Homo sapiens: one gene and its partners. The gene in region 3 interacts genetically with the main gene of each other region. Each region holds a gene or a part of one and is shown on either strand. Other genes may lie near its edges. The genes, in order: PDCL, UFSP2, TRPC6, EMC7, SERPINB4 and MARCHF5.

Region 1 (3,500 bases), on a different chromosome or scaffold from region 3:
GCTGATTTTAGGACATTACACTTAGCCAAAGACTTCAATAGGTCAGAAGAAGCCACTCTGGTAGACTGAGTTGAAGTGGAGGGCTGCAAGATGGGAGGAAAATTGGCAATAAGTAAAATAGTGAACTCAGAATGTTGCTGGTTATGATAAAGTAACAACGTGTTCTGATCTAGTGTGATCTCCCACTCCCTGTTCCCTAATCTATGCAACATTAGGCAGAGTTAGGTTTTATGAGAGGAGCGAGGATGTCTTGCTGCACCGGGGCAGGGGTAAGATGCTTTCGTAGCTTAAGCTGTCTCTTGGGCATTGTGCCTGCTGCTCACAGCTGCTTCCTGATACTGAGGTGAGAGGCCAGAATGAGGCAACATCATATCATCACATGGATCAGTCTTGTGAGAGGCTGTTCCCGTCCTGCTGATTTATCTGCAATAGAACAGAATTGGAAACTGTCTGGCAGAATTAGGGAAGTGATTAAGCAAAGTGACACATTATATATAATTTCATAAAAATATTTGGAAACATGAGGAAATACTTATAATCGTGCTAAGTCTCGAAAGCAGGTTATGGCTTAATTGGTACACCCACAGCTGCTGCTATAAAAGCAAAACTATTTTAGTATGACTGGTAATAAAAATAATTTTTAGAGTCCATATGACTCTGTGTGTGTGTGTGTGTTTGGGGATGGTGTGGGGCAGGGGTTATGAGAGTTTTTTCTAAAATTCTGTAATGTCTTGTTATCTTTCAAAAAAAAAGTAGATAAAATATTGTCAAGACTGACAAAAAGAAATAAGCTCATGAAGTGAGATTATATGATGCTGCCTATTTGGATTGAGAGGAAATGTGATATTGTAGTTAAAAACATGGGTTTTTAAAATCTAGTTTGAGTACTGGTCTTATGCTTACTGGGTGAACTTGTTCAAATAATGTCAAGTTTTGGAACCTCATTTATAAAGTGGGGCTATTAAAAGTCCCTTCCCGATGGAGTTATGGAATTCAGTGAGATATAATGCATGTAAAGTACTTAGCATGGTGCCTTATATATTATCAGCATGTAGTACATGTTAACTGTTTTATTTCTTTTTATTTTTTTGGAGACAGGGTATCACCCTGTCTCCCAGGCTGGAGTGCACTGGTGTGATCTTGGCTAACTGCAACCTCTGCCTCCCAGGTTCAAGTGATTCTTGTTGTGCCTCAGCCTCCAGTGTAGCTGGGACCACAGGTGCACACCACCATGCCCTGCTAACTTTTTTTTTTTTTTTTTTTTTTAAGGAGAGATGAGGCTTTGCCATGTTGGCCAGGCTGGTCTTGAACTCCTGACCTCAAGTGATCCGCTCGTCTCAGCCTCCCAAAGTGCTAGGATTACAGGCGTGAGCCACCGCGCCCGGCCCATATTAACTGTTATCACGAGTGTTCAGTTTTCATATTTATGCTCACTTGCTGGTCCGCCTGCAGATGACTCTGAAGGAGTTTGCCATAATGAATGAGGACCAAGATGATGAAGAGTTTCTGCAGCAGTACCGGAAGCAGCGAATGGAAGAGATGCGGCAGCAGCTTCACAAGGGGCCCCAATTCAAGCAGGTTTTTGAGATCTCCAGTGGAGAAGGGTTTTTAGACATGATTGATAAAGAACAGAAAAGCATTGTCATCATGGTTCATATTTATGAGGATGGCATTCCAGGGACCGAAGCCATGAATGGTTGCATGATCTGCCTTGCCGCAGAGTACCCAGCTGTCAAGTTCTGCAAGGTGAAGAGCTCAGTTATTGGCGCCAGCAGTCAGTTCACCAGGAATGCCCTTCCTGCCCTGCTGATCTATAAGGGGGGTGAATTGATCGGCAATTTTGTTCGTGTTACTGACCAGCTGGGGGATGATTTCTTTGCTGTGGACCTTGAAGCTTTTCTCCAGGAATTTGGATTACTCCCAGAAAAGGAAGTCTTGGTGCTGACATCTGTGCGTAACTCTGCCACGTGTCACAGTGAGGATAGCGACCTGGAAATAGATTGAACTGATAGTCTAGTTGCATAGATTTCTCATTGTTTGGGTTGGAATACACGTCATTGTTTATTTTTGTTCCTTTGTCTTCTGGCTTTTCAGCTGTTCTTTGTAGTCCCTTTTATTATGCATAAAATAAAGAAATTCTTAGATTAAATCAGAATGCTGAATAACCTTGTAGCTAGCAATAAGGTGACTTACAGTTGTATAAACAGGAAGCCAGGCTTTTGAACTGTTTACTTAAGATTCTGTGGTGTGACATCTCTGTTATTGTTTCCAGTCAATATTTACAAAGCATCCTAAAGACAGGGTCTTGGAAATTGTCTTCAGATGATCTTAGAGGTCTCTGCCAAGTCTGAGAGTATAATTCTGTAGGTATTGTGTTATTTGCAACGTAAATAGTGCATTTTCTTAATCAAATGATTGTAAATTATATTTACTTGTAATCAGTTCCATAGCTTTAGACGGTGGTTAGATTTTTTTTTTCCCCACCAGGGTCTTGTTTAAAGGGGTGAGCCACCGCACCCAGTCCTGAGGGGTGGCCTCTGCTGCTGGATTTCATGTCTTCCTCCAGCATGACTAAGTCTGGAACAGCAGGAAGGGTTGATGCTTACTGACCTGGTGATGTTAGAAGACAAGTAGTTTATGGATTTAAACATTAGAGCTGGAGTGGGGCTGGAAATCTTTGTAAAGGAAGTTCTTTCAGTAAGATGCCCCTGCTTGTCTTTGTCTCTTTTTTGTTTAACAAGGTAACTTTTTGTTTAACAAGGTAACTTTTTGTTTAACCTAGATTTTTTTTAAAACTTTTTTTTTTTTTCATATTGGAAAAGTAATTCATATTCAGTAGAGGAAAACTGACCAAAACAGAAGCAAAAATAAGAAAATTAAAATAATCTCTAATCCTACTACCTAGAATAAAACACTATTAATATTTTGGTCTGTTTCCTGCCAAGGTGTTTTCTGTGTATACATGGATATTTTGTTTGTTTTTAAACAAAACGATGGGATCATTCTGAACATACTGTTCTATAGTATGGTCAGCTAATAATATATCAGACCTTTTTTTATATTATTAAATATTCTACAACTTTTTAAAAATGTCTATTAATATTCCATCGTATAGATGTGATATAATTTGCTTGATGGTTGTCTCTTAAAAAGAAAGATAGCAAATACTTTTTTTAAATTACAAAAGTGATAGATGTTCATTGTAGAAAATGTAATAAACACTGTTAAGACTTAAAAGCCATATAATTCCACCAACCAAAATTAATCCCTTTTGTCATATTTCTAGTCATTTTTATAGCCTTTTTTTCTATGTATTTATAATAATTATCATTTGCGTTTTTTTCCTTTTTTTAACTTTAAAAATGTATATTCTAGGGTCAGGGGAAATGTAATCTGGAATTAAATATTAGCCTTAAAATTCACAATTTTGATTTTCCTGGCTTTTCAGGAATTGACTAACTGTAAAAGAGTCTTGAAAGTATTTAGTCAACAAACAGAGT
Region 2 (3,500 bases), on a different chromosome or scaffold from region 3:
AGTCCTGGACGCTCAGAAGGTATTAATAAATGCCACCATACGATAGCCAAGTTTTCTTTCTCTTGGGAATCTGAACTGAGAGGTGCAGAGTTAGCCAGGCAGCCAGGAGCAGGAAATGCAGTTGGAATGAGGCATACACTGGGCAGCTGAGGAAGAACAGGAAAAAGTGACACACAAGCTGAAACAGTGAGGATACAGAGGGTATGAGGTGGAGCAGACAGAGTAAAAGTTAAGAACAGGCCAGTTAGGATCACAAGCATACACAGAAAGCAATAGCAATGCCACCAAGGTATCCACGGAGTCCTTGAGAGAGACTGAAGACACCTGCTAGTCACAGGGCTGCTGTTTCTAAGAGGCCCAGCTCTATTGGTATTCCTAATCTTGGATGCCTTATAAGGTCCTTTCTCACTGGCCTCCATGTATCCTTAAAGTAACCCTTCCACCACCCTCCGCCAATTCACTCTTATTTGAGCTACCTTTAGGGAGGATCTATCCCTGGCAACCGGGTATATGTTACATGGAAAATAAGTCTAGTTCCTCATTAGACTTATCCTACAGTGGCTGGGCATGGTGAATCATGCCTGTAATCCCAGCACTTTGGGAGGCCTACATGGCGGATCACTTGAGGTCAGGAGTTCACGACCAGCCTGGCCAACATGGTGAAATCCTGTCTCTACTAAAAATACAAAAACTAGCCAGGTGTGGTGGCAGGTGCCTGTAACCCTAGCTACTGGCCAACATGGTGAAACCCTGTCTCTACTAAAAATACAAAAATTAGCCAGGTGTGGTGGCAGGTGCCTGTAACCCCAGCTGCTCAGGAGACTGAGGCAGGAGAATTGCTTGAACCCAGGAGGCGGAGGTTGCAGTGAGCTGAGATCACACCATTGCACTACAGCCTGAGTGACAGAGCGAGACTCTGTCTCAAAAAAACAAAAAAAGATTTATCCTACAGTGTGGTTTGGGTAGACTATGCCCTTAATTAGCATGATTTCTCAGGTTCAGAATGAAAAAAAATGGGACAAGCCTTTAAAGAAATAAGAGAATTTTAGTAAGATAAATGTGGTATATCTACCTATTACTAACTTTTCTAGACCATTTTTAATTACTGCTATCTTAAGCAATGTCTGTTAACAGAGATGGGTGATAAATCATGTTTTAGGAATGAATACATAATGAATCAAGTCTCCTACTGGGTACCAACAAAAAACAACTAATAACATTACTGATCCAGTGACTCCCATAAATAATTAGTTAAACTCACCATACCAGTCTCCATGTTAGGTGGATTAAGGTAAGTATGTGGATTTCTAATGTAACCATCTTTGTATGGCTCATCTGGAAAGTGATAAGCATTAGACCTTTTGAAATAGGGTCTGTCGTGAGGCAGATTGAAAAGATCATGTAACTCCTAAAATAAATCAGAATCAACAGAAAAAGAAAAAATGTTGGTGATTTAGATTCCTAGTCAATAAATAAAGATGTTATTAAACATGGAAAATTATATATAGGTTATAAAAGTTTCCAAACACTTATGGTTTAATTCACTAACATCAAAGATGGTGAAAACTGAACTAAAACCAAGTAAGATTTATTTTCGTTTACGTCTGTATCTGGGTAGAAACTGGAAGGGAACAGAGAAAAATGAATATAAATTGTTAGAGTAAGAGAACTAATTTTTAAATAATTATTTATTACAACATAGTCTGTTAAAATACATCCAGGCTAAAGACTGGTTTTGAAATAGCCTTGTAAATGAGTAAATTATAATTAACAATAATTATATCAAAGTATTTTGCAAAATTGTGTCGAGTGCCTTACAAATATTTTATATTGTAAGTGGTAGTGATTAAACTACAGAGTAGAAGTTAGTGGTCTAAAGCCAACCAATATGGCAGGAAAACAAATACACATATATGTTTAAAATGTGTTATTTTCCCAACTATATAAAAACATGTAATAGGTATTTTAAAAAGTTTGACATGTTCTTTATCATATCTTGTACTCCAGTGGTTTTAAAAGATCAGCTCCTGTAGCTATTGCTTCTACAAACCAAGTCACCTCCACATACAGAGGGTCAGGGTATTCTCGCTCTCCCTAAGGACAGAAATTAGGAAGATGCTCCACGGTCTAATTTGATAGGTTCTAAGCGAGTCCACATATCAAAAAGATGCACTCCAAAACCAGTCATGAGTAAATCTCATTACTTTGAATGCTGGTCATGTTTTCTCCAAAATTCCTCTAATAAAGCCCAAATAACCTTACTTGTGGAGTATTACCATAAATCCTATTCAGAATTAGCATAAGTTATCATTTTCCTTCCCTAACTGTAATCTTGTCTCTTTCACAAATCGGAAAGTTATAGAAATCTGTTAATACCAGCAACTTTAGGCATGTAAGCACCATTTCTATATTTCATTATGGAAAAATATTAAAATTTCACAGAATATATGAACCACACCGAGCATTTAAAATTAAAATGTTACATATAGGTTCAACATAACATTTTGTCATTAATACTACTTAAAGTTTCATGAGAACAGAAATTAAATAATGTGTAAAATGAATAGTCTAAATTCCACACTTTTAAGTTAAATCACAAAATACCTTCCATTTAGTGGAAATATATAATTAAATACAAAATGAATGATAGTCATTATTGTTTTTTCTAAGAATAGATGAACTGGTTTTACCTTCCTATAGGCCTGCAGCTGGCCATCTGGTATTCCTGAAGGATATGAAATTGTTACAAGATTTTTTTTCCCTGGTAATAAAAAGTGCAGTGGTTCAGGGACCACAATAGATGTTCCTTTCATATATTTCAAAATACATTTTTCCATGTCAGTTAGTTGATTATGAATTGCATCAACCAGGAGTTTACGAACTCTGTGGGGGGAAATATATAAGTGTATTAACAAAAGTTATAGTGACTACAATAAAGAAAAGTACAGAGCTAATATATCCTTAGTATAGTAAAAAACTTGATTGGACCAGGTTTGCTAAAGGAAGTCTGAATTATACATTATAAAAGAAACTGTGTATTTGCTCTTTGTGGATAAAGGGAAATCCTCCAGGTTTTAGCATGCTACCCTACTTCCTCCAAATAACCATTTAATTAATAGATGGCTCTTAGGTTAATAATAAACAAGGAGAAAATCACACCTTAGGTATACCTACAGGATATACAAACATGGGTTTGGGGAAGGGCCCTCATTCAAATGTGGCAGTGGTACTATAAAAATACTTACTTTCCCCATGTTTCTTCTGGAGCAACAGATATAACTGCATCGACAGGTAAAGTCATATTAACATAATGGTGTCCTCCGCTTTCCCTTTCAATGATGGGCGTTACAGCTGCCAGGGAGGTTGACATTTCCAGCATAAGATCTATATTTACTATTTGATGCTATATAGATAAACAGTAATAGTCAACTTGTAGTGCATTAAACACTAAATATAAAGAGTAAGTAAAAAGACTTTTCAAAAATGTATTTATTATTAAG
Region 3 (3,500 bases):
ATTTTAAGTTTTTCTAGTTGAATAATCAACTAACAGAAAAATTTTAACCAAGAAACAAAAGTACTTCACACCTATGATGTATGAGAAAGAGCTAAAGAAAATTACTCCCTCTGGTAGAGTAGAAATCAACTCTTCCATATGCTTTTGACTTGTGATTTATACAATTTCATAGTGGGAGGTGTATCATTTCTGAAAGTGGCAATCACTAGTACATTTTAGATATGAATATTGCCATTTCTCAAATCATTGAGATTTTCCCTTATAAGATCCCAAGTCTTTGTAAGTTGTCATTTCTGTGGAATAAATTCTATGACTCTTGCCAAAAATTTCTGTTTCATAGTTTTCTTATTTAGAAAAATTTTTTACATATATTTATGGGGCTTCAGTAGTAATGGGGCTTCAGTAGTAATGGGGCTTCAGTTTTTATTTATATTTATGGGGCTTCAGTTTTCAGTAGTAAAACTGAAAATTATGGTAAATTATCTTATTTGTGAGCAATTATGTGCAATAAGGCCTTAATAGTTAAATAAGGCCTTAATAGTTAAAATAGTAATAAATTGAAATGGTGTTCAGAAGAAAATGGCTCAGATTTTCTCTTTATTCAACTTTCAATAGCAAATCAATTAATATTCTCTATTGTGATCAATTTGTAATGGTGATTAGCAAGAAAGGCCCATGTCCTGCCAAGGTCCCAGGAGGCATTTCAGATTTCCTTTATTTAGAACTTTAAAGGTATGTTTACAGTTCATCACTGCTGAACTTGGGGAAGAATCCCAGACATTTAAAAAAGTTAAGCATTTCTAAAATCTCAGGATCTGAAAACACAGTCCAACTAAACTTTCTGCTTGGGAAGGAGTAATTGATTGATTATGAATAATGAAACAGTAAACTGTAAACTAAAGCACTGGCAATTCAGCTGACTGAGACAATCTGAAAAATTTATGGTTACAGACACCTGGCAGTACTGGATAAAAGATTTTAAATGATTTTAAAACATCTCCCAATTTTGTGAAAAATAAAAGGGTAATCTACCATGTGCTAAGAACAAAGACATTAAAAGCGAGTATAGATTGTGAAGTGATGATGTGGTTGCCCTGTGAGTTATGCGTCCCAGTGACGAAGAAGCCTGGAATCTGATGTCCATATGAGACAGAAAGAAGGTAAACTCTTGGTGCCAGATGAGGCAGAGAGCTGGAACTGAGATACCCCTGTGCCCTGCATAAAGCCATTAAATAAAAATGTAGGCTAGAAATATATGCCCACCAGCATACAGTGAGAACAGGAAACTTTAACAGTAAGAAGAAAAGAACACTCCCCTTGAGAATATCGTTTTTGGGGTTTTTGTTTTTATACCCTACCTAACTAGCCTAGAAATAGTCAACATGGAAAATACTCCTGAGGTTCCTATAAGAGTAAAACACAAAATCATTATGAAAGACTAGTATCAAGCATCTAGATTGCCTAGGCTTTTCAAGAAGAAAGCAAGTCCTGCTAAAGATATGCTTGCTATAATGAATAACAAAACACACAAGGAAACAATCGACCAAGAGTGAGAGTCAGTGGACCATGGACTCAATCGACCATGAGTGAGTAGATATAAGACATGCAGTAGTTAGTGGATTTTTTAAAAAGTTGAGATAATACAACCACATGAAAAAGAATCTTTAAAAGTACATATAAATGTTGACAATATAAAAGAATAAATCAAACCTTAAGAAAAAAATGACATTTTTAAAGAAAAGGACAAATAGAACATCTATAAGTAAAAAATACAATTCTTAAAAAAAATTAATGGAAGGGCTAAATGCAGATTAGAACATAATTGATGATAATACCCAAAATGCAGAGACATAAAAAATATTTTGTATGAACATCGTTAAGAGTAATGGAGCTAGAAGGTAAGAGTTCCAGGAAAAGAAAACATATAGAAGTGGGAGAGGCAAGACTTGAATAGATAATGGGTAAGGATTTTCCAGAAATAATGAATTTTCATGTTTATGAAGTATACCAATATTATTGTAAAACAGAAAAAAAACCCCATTTAAACATATCATTTAAATTGCAGAACACCAAAGACAAGAGGAAATACTAAAAATTAAAGAAAACAGAGATTTGAATGAGAGAGTTTTAAAATTCAAAGTATTTACAGTGGAAATGCACTCATAATATATTTTGATATTACCTTGGTTAAAGAATGTATAGCTTGTAAGAACTATGGCTTTTCCATTACATAAAAGGTTTACTCTCTTGTTATTAATGGAGTCAGTGCTCCATTGCTGATAAGGTCTCCGATGGATATGTACTAAATATTTTTAAAAGGTGACTTATTGCATCACAGTCTTAGAGGAAACTCAAAGTGATTCTTAATTATATCCTCTCACATGAAAAAAACAAAAAATGACTTTTAAAAAATGGGTCACAGATCCTTTAAAATTTTTATTGACTTCAAGAGGGTTTTGGGTGACCTGAACCCCATTTATGAAAATAAGATCCAGAGTTTGAATTCCCAGTTTAAGAAAGGTAATGTAATGTTAGAGACCACAAGTAAAATCCCCCACATATTGTTTTCTTTTCTCCAGGCAAAAAAAGTTAGTATTGAACACATTGATAATAAGGGAATGAAAAATTCAGACTGTAGGCTAGAGAATCTTTCCTGATATTACTTGCCAATAGGATAACTAGTCTCTTAAAGAAGTTTAAGATTGAAGAACATGGACTCAGGCCTATGCATCATATTAAATTATTATATCCTTGTTATCTCTCCCTTGTTTTTGGCAACTATGTTCATTGAAACATCTGTTACACATTTTTACATTTATTTGTTCACACGTCCTTTTCCTCTGACTAGAATGTAAGCCACAAGAAGTGGGTCTGTCCTTCATCCCCCTATCTTAACACAGTGCCTAGCAGAGAGAAGGTACCATTTAATCTATTCCTCAACAAAGAGATTTCCTCCTCCTTGATATTTATTCAAATAAGGAATAAAATGATGCCAGCTACTTTAATGAAATAGCATCTGGATCAGCTAAGTTGGGCAGAAGAGTGAATGTCCATATCAAAAGAGATACCTATATCTTGTATTCCAGCTGCCTGTCACAAAGACTCATCTTTCAGGGAATCTTTCACCAATCACTACTGCCACCAGCATACTACTCTTCTTTTAGCTCTCTAGCCTGAGGCTCTTCCGTTAAAGTTCCCTCTGCACACCTGAGGCGAGGCTATATCTTTACCAAAGAGAATTAATAAAAAGGGAAAAACTCCTGGCTGGCTATAACTGCTCTTCCAGCTCATTTATGGAGTCTCCTGGGGATTGACCCTTGCCTGGCCCCAAGCATTATCTATCTGGCAGCGAGCGTTCTTGTTTTCCCTCTGCAGACCGTCCTCAATCAATCTAGTCCTTTGTCCTAGCCCAGACTGAAGAATGACTGCCTCCCCACCTCCCGCCACAACCTTTTTCTTTGGTGTAATATCTATTTTCCAAACTTTATTTCTTTTTAAAA
Region 4 (3,500 bases), on a different chromosome or scaffold from region 3:
GGACTTTATAGACACCTCACTTCATAGTTGTGCCACCCACCTATCTTTTTGCAGAGTTACAGTGTTATTTAACACAAATAGTTTGCAAATGGAACTATCTATTCCCTTTTTTTTTTTTTTTAATCTATAGTCTGGCAATGGGATTGGTGATCTGATGGCAAGCTAACTGCTCTTTTCAGGTGACTGTGGTTCTTGGAAAACTGACCTACTTTAGCAGACCAGTTTTGAAAAATGACCTAGAAGCATCAAGCACTGGAGCACTAGATACACTTCCACGGAATTTCAGAAATGAGAACATGGAAGGTGAATAAGCTCTGGAGTTTCACTGCTGACTTCTTCCATCCAGTCTCCCCCCGCCTCTTTATCTCTGATTACAGATTCTAGGTACTAATTTATTCCTCCCTAGGGGATATACAGCCTCTGAAAACAGATCATGTGTGATCTAAATAGCTATCAGCAAGGATTATGACCAAAACTTAGATAAATTCTTTTATTTTTATTTTTATTTTTTGAGACACGGTCTCGCTCTGTTCCCCGGGCTGAAGTGTGGTGGTGCAATCTTGGCTCACTGCAACCTCCACCCCCTCTGGTTCAAGCAGTTCTCCTGCCTCAGCCTCCCAAGTAGCTGGGATTACAGGTCCCCGCCACCACACCCAGCTAACTTTTTATATTTTTGATAGAGATGAGGTTTCACCATGTTGGCCAGGCTGGTCTCGAACTCCTGACCTTGTGATCCGCCCACCTCAGCCTCCCAAAGTGCTGGGATTACAGGCGTGAGCCACCGCGCCTGGCCTACTTAGACAAATTCTAAGACAGCAATTCAATTTTTAAAAACAGCAAAAGAAAAGGTCGATTTGTTTCTAAAAACTGTTTTCTTGATGATAGTCAACAATAATTTATTGTATATTTTAAAATCACAATCAAAGAGTGGAATTGGTATGTTCCTAACATTTATAAAAACATGATAAATGCTTAAGGTGAGGGATATCCCAATTACCCTGATGTGATTAATACACATCGTATGCCTATATCAAAACATCATATGTACTTCATAAATGTACATCTATTAGGCACCTATAATAATTAAAAATAAAAACAAATTTTTAAAGAATGCATGCTATTAGTGTTTTATTATTAGTGAGTATCATAACATCGGTTCATAATGCCAACTACTTAAATTACCATAGAATAACTTTTCTCTTCACTACACATGTTAAAAAAAGAGGAAGAAATCCTTACTTGTGCTATCAATAGGGGCTGGTTAATAAATGATGGCACATTCATCAATGGACTAATAATATGCAGGCAGTATGGCTGGGTGCGGTGGCTCACGCCTGTAATCCCAGCACTTTAGGAGGCCGAGGCGGGCAGATCACCTGAGGTCAGGAGTTCAAGACCAGCCTGGCCAAGATGGAGAAACTCTGTCACTACTAAAAATACAAAATTAGCCGGGCGTGGTGGCACATGCCTGTAATCCCAGCTACTTGGGAGGCTGAGGCATGAGAATCGCTTGAACCTGGGAGGCAGAGGTTGTGGTGAGCCGAGATCGCACCATTGCACTCCAGCCTGGCCAACAAGAGCGAAACCCCGTCTAAAAAAAGCCAAAACAAACCACAAACAAAAAATACGCAGGTAGTATGAAGAATGAGACAGCTCCAGGTATGACTGACTTACTGAGTATTCTTATTCTATTTGAAATGTAAAACATGCTATAAATATTTATCCAATTTCTATTACACATTTCAATAATCAAATCTACAGTGCAATTCTCATTATATTCTCTTCATTATGTATTCCCAAAGCCACTATTCTTCTGAAATCTGCAAATTATTCACAATTATCCTTTCATCCACCAATCTGACCTCAGCTTTCTATCTCACAGAGGTTTGAAGTTTCCACTGCCTAGAAGCAAATTAGGTATTAGTAAAGTGCTTTATTTTAGCCTGATACATACCATTGGGTTCATTAGAAAGTCTGTCCAGCCCCACGATTCCCTTTTAATAAAGTAAGAAGGTGGACCTGAAGATTTCATTTGGAGAGGATAGGGCAGTCTGACAACCTCTGATGTTTTGATGTAATTCACATATCTTGCTCTGATAAAGCAACATGGGGAAAGCAACAGTAATTCCATTAAAAACATTACTGGTTAAAAGAACTGCTTATATTATATTAGCAATGCCTTATACACACTTTCAGCTTTTTCCAAAATGCTTTAAAACCTAAACTTTTGATCTTGAAAATCTGACCAAAATAGCTTTATCTACATGTCTAAAATATGCAGCAAAACACAGAGAAAAAAACGCTAGACTTGGAATCTTCTAGCTGCAGCTCTGTCATTACCTAGACCTGTGGGATTAAATCAGTTCCCTAACTTCTATTTATGTCAAAAGTTCTTTTAGAATCCTTCTGGTGCTAAAGTTATTTGATTATATTTAGTAATGAATTTACTTCATTATACCATACAAAAATACTGGATTTTATTTTTTTGATGGTCTAAGAAATGCATTATTGGATGTAACCAATTTTTAAGGCTATATTGCCAGAAAATGTTATAATGCAAGAAAGCACTGCAGCAGTGCTATAGGTAACGCTACATTTTTCACCAAAGACGCACTAATTTTAATCAAAATTCTCATCCATGTTTACATAGGATCCATTTTACTTTTTGAAAACTGCCTCTCCTATTTCACTGTCATTGCTGTGTTGGGAAATTTTTTTTCTGATCTGTCTCCCACTTCATCAGACTTCTGCTCAGTTTCTTAATGCATCCATTTAGTTGTACATTTCAATGCCTATATTCATTGTAGAGATTCTATTCTATTCTTTTTTCAAATATCTATAGCCTATTTTGGTATATCATTTCTATGGCAGTCTTTTATTTCCTTAAGTACTTTAAATATACATTAAATTATTTTACAGTCTATATCTAATAATTCTACTATTTAAAGTTCTTAGAGGTCTGATTTATTTGCTGACTCAATGTAGACTGTTTTCTTGGGTTCTTTGTAAGTTTAGTAGACTTTATTTACCTTTATTTAAGTAAAGAGATACAAAGGGTATCTCCTTCCAGAGAGATTATGCATTTGTTACTGCCAGGAATTTGGGAATTATAAACAGAAACTATTTTGTTCATTGCTTAGCTTGGAAGTTCCTGGATTATGCAGAAAGTAATAAATTCATACCCCAACTTGTAATGAGTGTAGGAGCGTAACTATCAGTTTTCAGGGGAGACTTTTTCCCCCAAAGGCCAGCATCAGACTTTTCCCTCCGAAAATCCAGGGCCTTCTGCATTTTAGTACCAAAGGTCAAAGGGAGGACCAAATTTTAGATCTAATTCTGACTCCAAGCAAGCCCATGGCTTGCCTCCTCCCTGCACATTGCTAATTAAATCTAAGCCTTCTGGGTTAGAGAATATCAAAATCTCCAGGTGGGGAAGTGCTTTATAGTTTATCCCCTAGGGATTTCCTTTGTTGTGGGGGGAGCTATGCATTTATTAATAA
Region 5 (3,947 bases), on a different chromosome or scaffold from region 3:
GTAAAATTAGAAAGCTGCCATTTAAAATGGCCCGTCTGTTTCAATTGCTCTTCTCAGTGTCAGCCTGTTAACTCAATGTGTTAGTCTGTTTTCATGCTGCTGATAAAAACATACCTGAGACTGGCAAGAAAAAGAGGTTTAATTGGGCTTAGAGTTCCACGTGATTGGGGAGGCCTCAGAATCACAGTAGGAGGCAAAAGTTATTCTTACATGGTGGCTGCAAGAGAAGATGAGGAAGAAGCAAAAGAAGAAACCCCTGATAAACCCATCGGATCTCCTGAGGCTTATTAACTATCATGAGAATAGCACAAGAAAGACCGGCCCCCATGATTCAATTACCTCTACCTGGGTCCCTCCAATAACATGTGGAAATTCTGGTAGATACAATTCAAGTTGAGATTTGGGTGGGAACACAGCCAAACCATATCACTCAGCAAGGCAGATAACTTTCTCACTGAGCCTATGCAACAGAAAACCATCTGGGATGGTTGTAAGGGGCACAGGAAGTGACTGGTAGGATCACTGCCAAAGCTGAGCACTCAGGAGAAGGCAATAGAATCCTATTCTCCATAGTATGCTATAAGATACTGAAGTACACTTCTTCACTATCTCTTTGGACTTAGAATTAGCACTACATTCCTTGTTATACAGAAAAATTACTAAGGAAATTCATAGGATGACAAAAACTTTCAGAACTGAAAAACAGGAAATGTAAGCTTTTTAGTTCTTTGGTATTCGAAGTATGCCTAAAAGACAATGCAAAATCCAAGAAAAGAATGGTGGGGTTTTTGTTTGTTTGTTTTTGTTTTTGTTTTACAGCTGGAGTAGAATACAAAGGGATGGAGTTGAAACAAATGAGAGGAAATTGGAATTCTAAACTTATTCTCATTGGCATTAGAAAGGCACCTACATGTATTTCACATGAGCCGGTGACTGCTGACTTGCATTCTTATTTTTTCCCTATAGATTAAAAAGGAGGTACAATGGTAGAACTGTAATCCTGTCCTTTGTCATAAATTTTCATATTCATAAAGGTGAGTGTTAGCCCGCTTGTGAAATCTGAAGTTGAGTAACTTCAAATACTAACCACAGAGGGAAAGGCAGCAAGAGGAGAGGCATAAATTTAGGATCTCACCCTTCATTCCACAGACACACACAGCCTCTCTGCCCACCTCTGCTTCCTCTAGGAACACAGGTAAGAGCTTCAAGCCTCTCCAGCTTAATAACATGAATTATTTTTGAGAATAATAATGATACTGTGTTCTATATCATGCATCTCCTGCATTCTGTCTGATTATATTTTACTTATTCTGCCAGAGCAAAATTAAAATACCTATTTCATCTGATTTGTCCTTTATCTAAATTGCTTAGTTCCAAGTAAACCAAGGCACTTTTAGGAACACAGAGGGAGAGTGCCTTGCAGCCAGAGAGTCTTGAAGGAGATGTCAGGGACGCATCTTAACAGCTGGTTGGATGTGATCCACAGAGGTCTCCTGTTAGCATTCATTGTAAAGCCATCCTACCTAGCTCTAGTGTAACCAGCAATGAAAGAAAGATAAAGAGGGTCGATTACTTATTTACAATAGTCTTTAAAAACGTAGTTTTGTAAGCCTTCTAATTAGGACATTAATATATTTAATATATGCACATTGTAGAAAGATTGAAGCGTTAAAAATAAGAGAAAAACTTTAAATGTCAAAATCTCACAACCCAGATATATCATTTCTTTAAGAAAATTGTACTACAAAATACCATTCCATTTATTAAAGTCATTCTGACAGGAATCTGATGCTTTTCCAGGAGTTCCAGATCACATCGAGTTCACCATGAATTCACTCAGTGAAGCCAACACCAAGTTCATGTTCGATCTGTTCCAACAGTTCAGAAAATCAAAAGAGAACAACATCTTCTATTCCCCTATCAGCATCACATCAGCATTAGGGATGGTCCTCTTAGGAGCCAAAGACAACACTGCACAACAAATTAGCAAGGTAGCTATCAGCATCATTACGTTGTCCTGTTGCAGTTTTTCTCTGGTTCCGTCGGCTAGCACGCAGATGGTAATAGATGTGGTGGTCTGATGGGTAGCACAGGGGGCTGTGCAGGAATTCCCATAACTGTGAGACCACTGACTTAAACAGATCTTTTGAGTAAAGTTTTCTTGTCCCGCTTCATGTCTCTTCCAGGTTCTTCACTTTGATCAAGTCACAGAGAACACCACAGAAAAAGCTGCAACATATCATGTGAGTCACAGAGCACTATGGTTCAGCTTTAGATCCCTGAACAGGTCATAGTTTAAACCTGGAACTTCACAAAAACTAAGAAAAGGCCAGTTTTAGGGAAAATCTTGGACACAAAGATTGAGACATACAGAGTGGGTTGGCATTTCATGGCACATAATTATTATTCCTCATTTCTGCGTTACTAAAAGACAGTCAGCACTGTACCTCAGAGCATAGGTCTGGATCAGGATAGGCTGGGTTCAGACTCCAGCTTTGCTCTTCACAAATGATGAATAAGAGCAGGACACAACTGCTCGGAGTCCCAGTGACCTCATCCCAGAAAACTAAGGGTAAGAAAAAATCTGACTCAATACATGCAAATACATGCAAATGTTTACAACAGTGCCTTGCCCATAAAAGTCATAATAAATGTTATTATTATTATAAAGTAGCTATAATTATACTAATCATAATAATGTGAAAATAATTTAATTTTCATTGAGTCATTAATGAGATTCAGAGGAATAAGCACAAGTCCAAGTATATTTTGGAAAATGATTGCTATGGAATATATTGGTTTAGAGCCTTAATAGTGCAAAATGCTTTGCTGGAAGGTAGAAAGTTCTAGATTTAAACAGGCTTAGGTTCAAAACTTGGCACTTCTAATTTATGTCTCTATAAACAGGGTTTTTTTCCCCATTCTCTGAGCTTTCTTGTGTTCATCTGAATTGAACTAAAGACTTAGAGTTACCCATGTAAAGTCCTTAGCCATGGACCTGGCATACACTCTTCTTACGTGCAGAGAATGACCATCATGAGGAAAGAGCCACAGATCAGTCAATGTGTCCTACAAGATAATAGCACCAACAGGTATAACAGGGCTTCCTGGCATAATCTATTTAAAATATCCAACCTTCAACATACTCGTATCCTTGATGACTGTTAGAAGTGAAATATGGTCCTTGCCCATAAGGAGCTGAGAGTTTAACTGGGAAGCTAAACCTAACCCTTTAAACCAACAAGGAGAAAATCTACTGGTAGACAGCGCTGCATCTTTAGTTCAGAAGAGAAAAGATTGCAGTACGTTAGAGCAAGAAGAATTTTCTGGAAGAAGTCAAATATAAGGTGGATTTTGAAGGGTATTTGAGGTGAAATACACCAATTATCAGGGAATAACATCAAAGGTCCTCAATGAGACTACCAGCATTTAGGGACTGATCTAACAGACTTAGCATGGGTTTAGTATTTACATTGATACAGCAATTGAATGATCTCCCTTTTTGATGTTTGAAGGTTGATAGGTCAGGAAATGTTCATCACCAGTTTCAAAAGCTTCTGACTGAATTCAACAAATCCACTGATGCATATGAGCTGAAGATCGCCAACAAGCTCTTCGGAGAAAAGACGTATCAATTTTTACAGGTAATTTCACCTGGCCTACCCACATTTCATTTGCATCCTGATGTCTGTGTCTCTGAGTGGCCAAATGGAAGAAAGCAAGGCAGATGAGCCTGGCCGACTCAGGTGGAGAGCATTTACTCAGAGTGCATTAGCTCCATTTCCACAACTCTCCCCCACTGGAGTGTCCCAGACCCCAACGATACATCACTGAAGTGTGGATTTAGGGATAATCTTGTGATAAAAGAGGAGGTTGTGTAATAGAGTGAGTAAGAGTAATAAGTAATAAGATACCATCGATAAACTGGCACTGACTCAGTCACATAC
Region 6 (4,298 bases), on a different chromosome or scaffold from region 3:
GAAATCTAAATCAAATGTCTGGACTTTTTGTTCCTGTAGTATGGTGATGGTAATAATCAGGATTATTGTGAGGATTGTATAAGTACTAGCACATAGTAAGCACTCATGTTGTTTGCTATTATTGTTACTCCCACTTCTCCCCTCTGGTGGCATGTAACCTGCACGGACCTTGGAGGACTGAACAAAGGGGGCAAACGTGGGAATAAAAGACAAAGACAAGAGAGTATATTTGGAAGAAGGGGTCAGGGGGCACCTTGCCTCTAGTGGACAAGGGCCCTGAGCTTTACACAGCCCTCTGTATTTATTAGGCAAAAGAGATAGTGAGAAGCAGGGGTGATTGTCGGGTAATTGTCAGTCCATTTGGCAGTTTGGTTCACAGCAGGCTTGCGAGACTGCATCATTTGAACAGTAGGCGCTAGATTTCCCAGTAGATAAGTTCAAGGAGCCCTGCACCAGGGAGTGATGGCCCCCAGCAAACCCTTTGGTGGCAGGCTCAGTGTGAGTTTACTCACATCCTGCATTCATGATAAACAGTTTGCTGTTTGGTCATATAGCCTCCAGTGGAATGCTGAGTTGGTCACGATCCCTTTGGCCTTTCTTGCTCCCAACAGTGGCAGTCTGCACATAGTGCCCTAGCATTCTTCTTTGTATATCAGAGTATATGTAGAACTACATGGAAGAAAGACTAGTCAGAAAGGATAATGGAGAAGGCATCTGTGTCCCCTGTTACCTGTAGTAACAGCGTATAGTCTGTCTCTCTCCCTATCTCATCTCCTAGTAGAAAAAGAAAACTGTTTCATTTGCAGTCATCTGAATTAGTTTAGCATCAAAGCCTACGTCTTTTGTGATCTAAATAAAATTATTTTTATTACTCTGTTTCTCTAAATCTGCATTATAAAAAGCTAATTTTCCTTTTTATTTTAGGGTGGAATTGCGTTTGTTGCCATAAAAGGAGCATTTAAAGTTTACTTCAAACAGCAGCAATATTTACGACAGGCACACCGCAAAATTCTGAATTATCCAGAACAAGAAGAAGCATAAAACTGACTTCTGGTTGTTCTGCAGTTCTCTCATCCTTATGAATCTGTTGTGTTGTTTTGATTCCATCATTAATGCACTTGTGGAGACTTGTGATAAGCTGCTGCTCCTATATTTTTTAAGAAATATAATAAAGCACTTAGGGCAGGGGAAATCATCTCGGTAATCATGGAACCTAAGGATGTGATTTGTTTTCATTGTTTGTATGTACTACTTTTATGGCAGTCATATGAACCATTATCTTAGCATGGTAAACCTGGGTTTTGTTCATATTTTCTCCAGACAGAAATGCAAAGATCAAACTGTGCAAATATTAAAAAAATGCACATGCTGTTTTATTCAAATGCCTCTTTTGTACATGTTCATGTTTAGTGTTTTCTCAGAATCAGCAACTCAAGGTACTATGAGGATTTTTCTCACTGACATAATTTGATTACATACTAAATAAGAGGATATGTTAATATGAGGAAATGTAAATTAAATTAGTTATAAATAAATAACCAAAAATGTATGTAAACATTCAAATGATTATCTGAACAAATGAGATTTTGTGGTGTTTTCTTTAACCCATGTGATGTCCTCCAAAATGTGTAGGGTAAAAATTCACAGGGCTTCCAGATCACTTTTTCAATATTAAATTTTATTTACATAATGTTGACATCTCATACTTCATGAAGTAATTTTGACTCATGCAGTCGTGTGTGTGTGTGTGTGTGTGTGTGTGTGTGTGTGTGTATTTGTGTGTTTCAGTGTTTCATCAGGTCCTTCCATCTCTGGGAGTTTTTTCAACCCATATTTCTAGAAATTACAGCTGCCAGTTTATAGTAGTTTGAGCAGAGGATGATTTGCAAAAATAAAAATAAAGTTATTTTACTCTCCTCTTGCATTGATTCAGTTATTGAGATATTCGTTGATCACCTCCTATTTCCCAGGCACTGTGCAGAGTGCTGTAGGACATAGTGGTGAACAAGACAGACTTGGTCCAAGCTCTTACAGAGTTGACAGTCTAGTTTCAGCACATAGAAAACCAGCAGTGAATAAACCAAGGTGAGGCCTTGAGCTCTTTGTTTTTATATTAATGAGGAGAAAAGTATGAAAACAAGAAGTCTTAAGTAAATATTGAGGTCATTGTTTTTGGCTTAAGTTTATTATAGAAAATCAACACTAATGTTTTTAGATTTTAATTGTCCTATTGATGAGGCTAGCACCTTAATCACTGTTTAGTTTTGTATTCATTTTTAAAAGCAATTATTGAAGCCATTTTCAATAGATTGGCCATTTTAATGTTCAGCAACCTGAATGGTTATTTTTGTTAATTAAAATTAAATTTTTAAGAGATATTTTCAAAACCCTATTTATTTTCTTGTTCACAGTAATGCATGTCAATAATAAATGTTTCCCCTTACTGATAAGCGGCCACTTTAGGAGTGTAGCAAATATAGATTGAGCTATGTTAGTTTGCAATAATATATGTTAACTTTAGTAATTAAAGACTGGTTTCTATAGTATGAATGTCTTAATTTTGAGTTATATGATGTTTATTTGAATGACTGTTGAACATTCAAATTTGTATTATTTGGAGATGAAGATTTGACTAACAGTGAGCCTTATTAAGAACACTACTACAGTTCTGAAGGGGAAATATAACATCTATGGTTATATATTTTAAAAACTTAGATTATAGGCTGTAATTATAAAATATATTGGCTTTTGTTTTCAATGTGAAAGATACATTAAATGGACACATATCTTGCAAAATTTTGTTGTATAGAACAGTTTTTAGGCAGCCTTTACTAAAGTTATGCAAACACACAGTTCCCCATTTACTACATTAATGCCCTTGACAGGGAGTAGCTGCTTGGTTTTATAGGTATTAGGGCTCATGAAGGCCGGGGAACAACTCTAATCCTTTTGGGGCAGGAGGGAGGGTTTTTTTAGGGTTGCGGGGAGGGAACTGCAAGTGCCTGAGGACCAGAGTGGCCTCTAGCCCCGAATTGAACACTTTTAAACCTAAAGAGCCTTATTATTATTAGCTCGAGAAATACCACATGCCAGTCTTCCCAGGAAGGTGACCTGCCTGACCATGAAGCAACAAAAGAGCATAGGCAGACTTAAAGTTGGATAGACCTGGGTTCAAATCATAGTTCAGCTTTCAATAACTGTATGTATGATTTTGGCTAAAGGATTTGACTTTCTCTCAACTGCAGTTTTCTTAATCTTTGAAATGCAAATAATGTTTATCTCAGAAGACTATTTCTAGGATTAACTGAGAGATTAAAGGAACAGCAGCACTTAGGCTCAAAATCGCCCCTACAAAGCAGTAGTTGTTTCTTAATTGCTAAGTAATCTGTTTGCACTCTAGGAAAAGTAAATGGAGAGGTAAAAGAAAGGCATTGGGGACAAATGAAAGAGATGATGTAGATTTTTCGGATGGGTGGGTATATTTTATTTTCCAGTTTATTTTCATATTTCTTTACTGTGTTATTTCTGGAAACTTTAATGTTTTAAACCTCTTTTATAAAATTCAATGACGACTACTAGAATTCTTTTCAAAAGTTAACTTATCTCCAAAGTGGCTGAAAATATTGTTTACCATTACATGATTATGAAATGACTGTGAAGAATATAAAATTAAACTTAGTGACTTAATTAGTCACTGCCTTGCTAACTTTGCTGTAATTTTTTTAAACGTCTTGTTTTTAATATAGCAAACTATCTCAATACTGGCTGGATTAGGTTAAATAAAGAATTTTTATGTTCTCTAGGTGTACTTTGTTAAATCTCAAAACATTCTGTACATACATAATTTTTTTTAATCACAGTTATCGAGATACTAGTTTTTGTAAGTAAAAGTAATCTGAATTTAAAAAAAAAACTGTATGGAAGAATTTGTCCTAATTTTGTAAACAGGCTAGCCTATATTCTAAGTATGTTCTAATGACTAAACTACATCCCCACTCACCCACCCTCAAAGCCTCTTGCACTGAGTATAATTAAGCAACTAGACAAGATCTGTGGGTGGTCTCATGCCATGATGTCTTAAAGTGTATTCGAGTGAGTTGGGAACACAAACTGCTTCTGAGATATTAAGAACTTAAATTTCTGAAGTAGAAGATTAGAATCCTCTAGAATGAGTTAAAGGTCTTTTCCTTGCATCCATTTGGGGATTATATTGGTTTTAAGTCATTTCATTACCCCATCTGAGAGACAGATGCTAAGAGGAGAAAGGGCATAGAATTGAACAGTCCTGGATGCATATG

The links.
Region 1: changes in TRPC6 (region 3) and PDCL together harm fitness less than expected from each alone (positive genetic interaction), as found in Homo sapiens cells (one large-scale study listed by BioGRID).
Region 2: changes in TRPC6 (region 3) and UFSP2 together harm fitness less than expected from each alone (positive genetic interaction), as found in Homo sapiens cells (one large-scale study listed by BioGRID).
Region 4: changes in TRPC6 (region 3) and EMC7 together harm fitness less than expected from each alone (positive genetic interaction), as found in Homo sapiens cells (one large-scale study listed by BioGRID).
Region 5: changes in TRPC6 (region 3) and SERPINB4 together harm fitness less than expected from each alone (positive genetic interaction), as found in Homo sapiens cells (one large-scale study listed by BioGRID).
Region 6: changes in TRPC6 (region 3) and MARCHF5 together harm fitness less than expected from each alone (positive genetic interaction), as found in Homo sapiens cells (one large-scale study listed by BioGRID).

What each region holds. Positions count from the first base shown.
Region 1 is NC_000009.12:122,818,589-122,822,088, reverse strand, and holds part of PDCL (phosducin-like protein), read left to right. Parts: intron 1-1,452; coding exon 1,453-2,004; 3' UTR 2,005-3,500. UniProt on the Homo sapiens protein: Acts as a positive regulator of hedgehog signaling and regulates ciliary function.
Region 2 is NC_000004.12:185,412,465-185,415,964, forward strand, and holds part of UFSP2 (ufm1-specific protease 2), read right to left. Parts: intron 3,404-3,500; coding exon 3,246-3,403; intron 2,884-3,245; coding exon 2,691-2,883; intron 1,409-2,690; coding exon 1,262-1,408; intron 1-1,261. UniProt on the Homo sapiens protein: Thiol-dependent isopeptidase that specifically cleaves UFM1, a ubiquitin-like modifier protein, from conjugated proteins, such as CD274/PD-L1, CYB5R3, DDRGK1, MRE11, RPL26/uL24, TRIP4 and RPL26/uL24.
Region 3 is NC_000011.10:101,577,508-101,581,007, reverse strand, and holds part of TRPC6 (short transient receptor potential channel 6), read left to right. Parts: intron 1-3,500. UniProt on the Homo sapiens protein: Forms a receptor-activated non-selective calcium permeant cation channel. Probably is operated by a phosphatidylinositol second messenger system activated by receptor tyrosine kinases or G-protein coupled receptors.
Region 4 is NC_000015.10:34,088,363-34,091,862, forward strand, and holds part of EMC7 (endoplasmic reticulum membrane protein complex subunit 7 precursor), read right to left. Parts: intron 2,094-3,500; coding exon 1,955-2,093; intron 1-1,954. UniProt on the Homo sapiens protein: Part of the endoplasmic reticulum membrane protein complex (EMC) that enables the energy-independent insertion into endoplasmic reticulum membranes of newly synthesized membrane proteins.
Region 5 is NC_000018.10:63,641,457-63,645,403, reverse strand, and holds the start of SERPINB4 (serpin B4), read left to right. Parts: upstream 1-1,147; 5' UTR 1,148-1,195; intron 1,196-1,781; exon of another isoform or gene 1,782-1,800; 5' UTR 1,801-1,826; coding exon 1,827-1,991; intron 1,992-2,186; coding exon 2,187-2,243; intron 2,244-3,515; coding exon 3,516-3,644; intron 3,645-3,947. UniProt on the Homo sapiens protein: May act as a protease inhibitor to modulate the host immune response against tumor cells.
Region 6 is NC_000010.11:92,350,167-92,354,464, forward strand, and holds the end of MARCHF5 (E3 ubiquitin-protein ligase MARCHF5), read left to right. Parts: intron 1-924; coding exon 925-1,041; 3' UTR 1,042-3,798; downstream 3,799-4,298. UniProt on the Homo sapiens protein: Mitochondrial E3 ubiquitin-protein ligase that plays a crucial role in the control of mitochondrial morphology by acting as a positive regulator of mitochondrial fission and as an important regulator of immune response.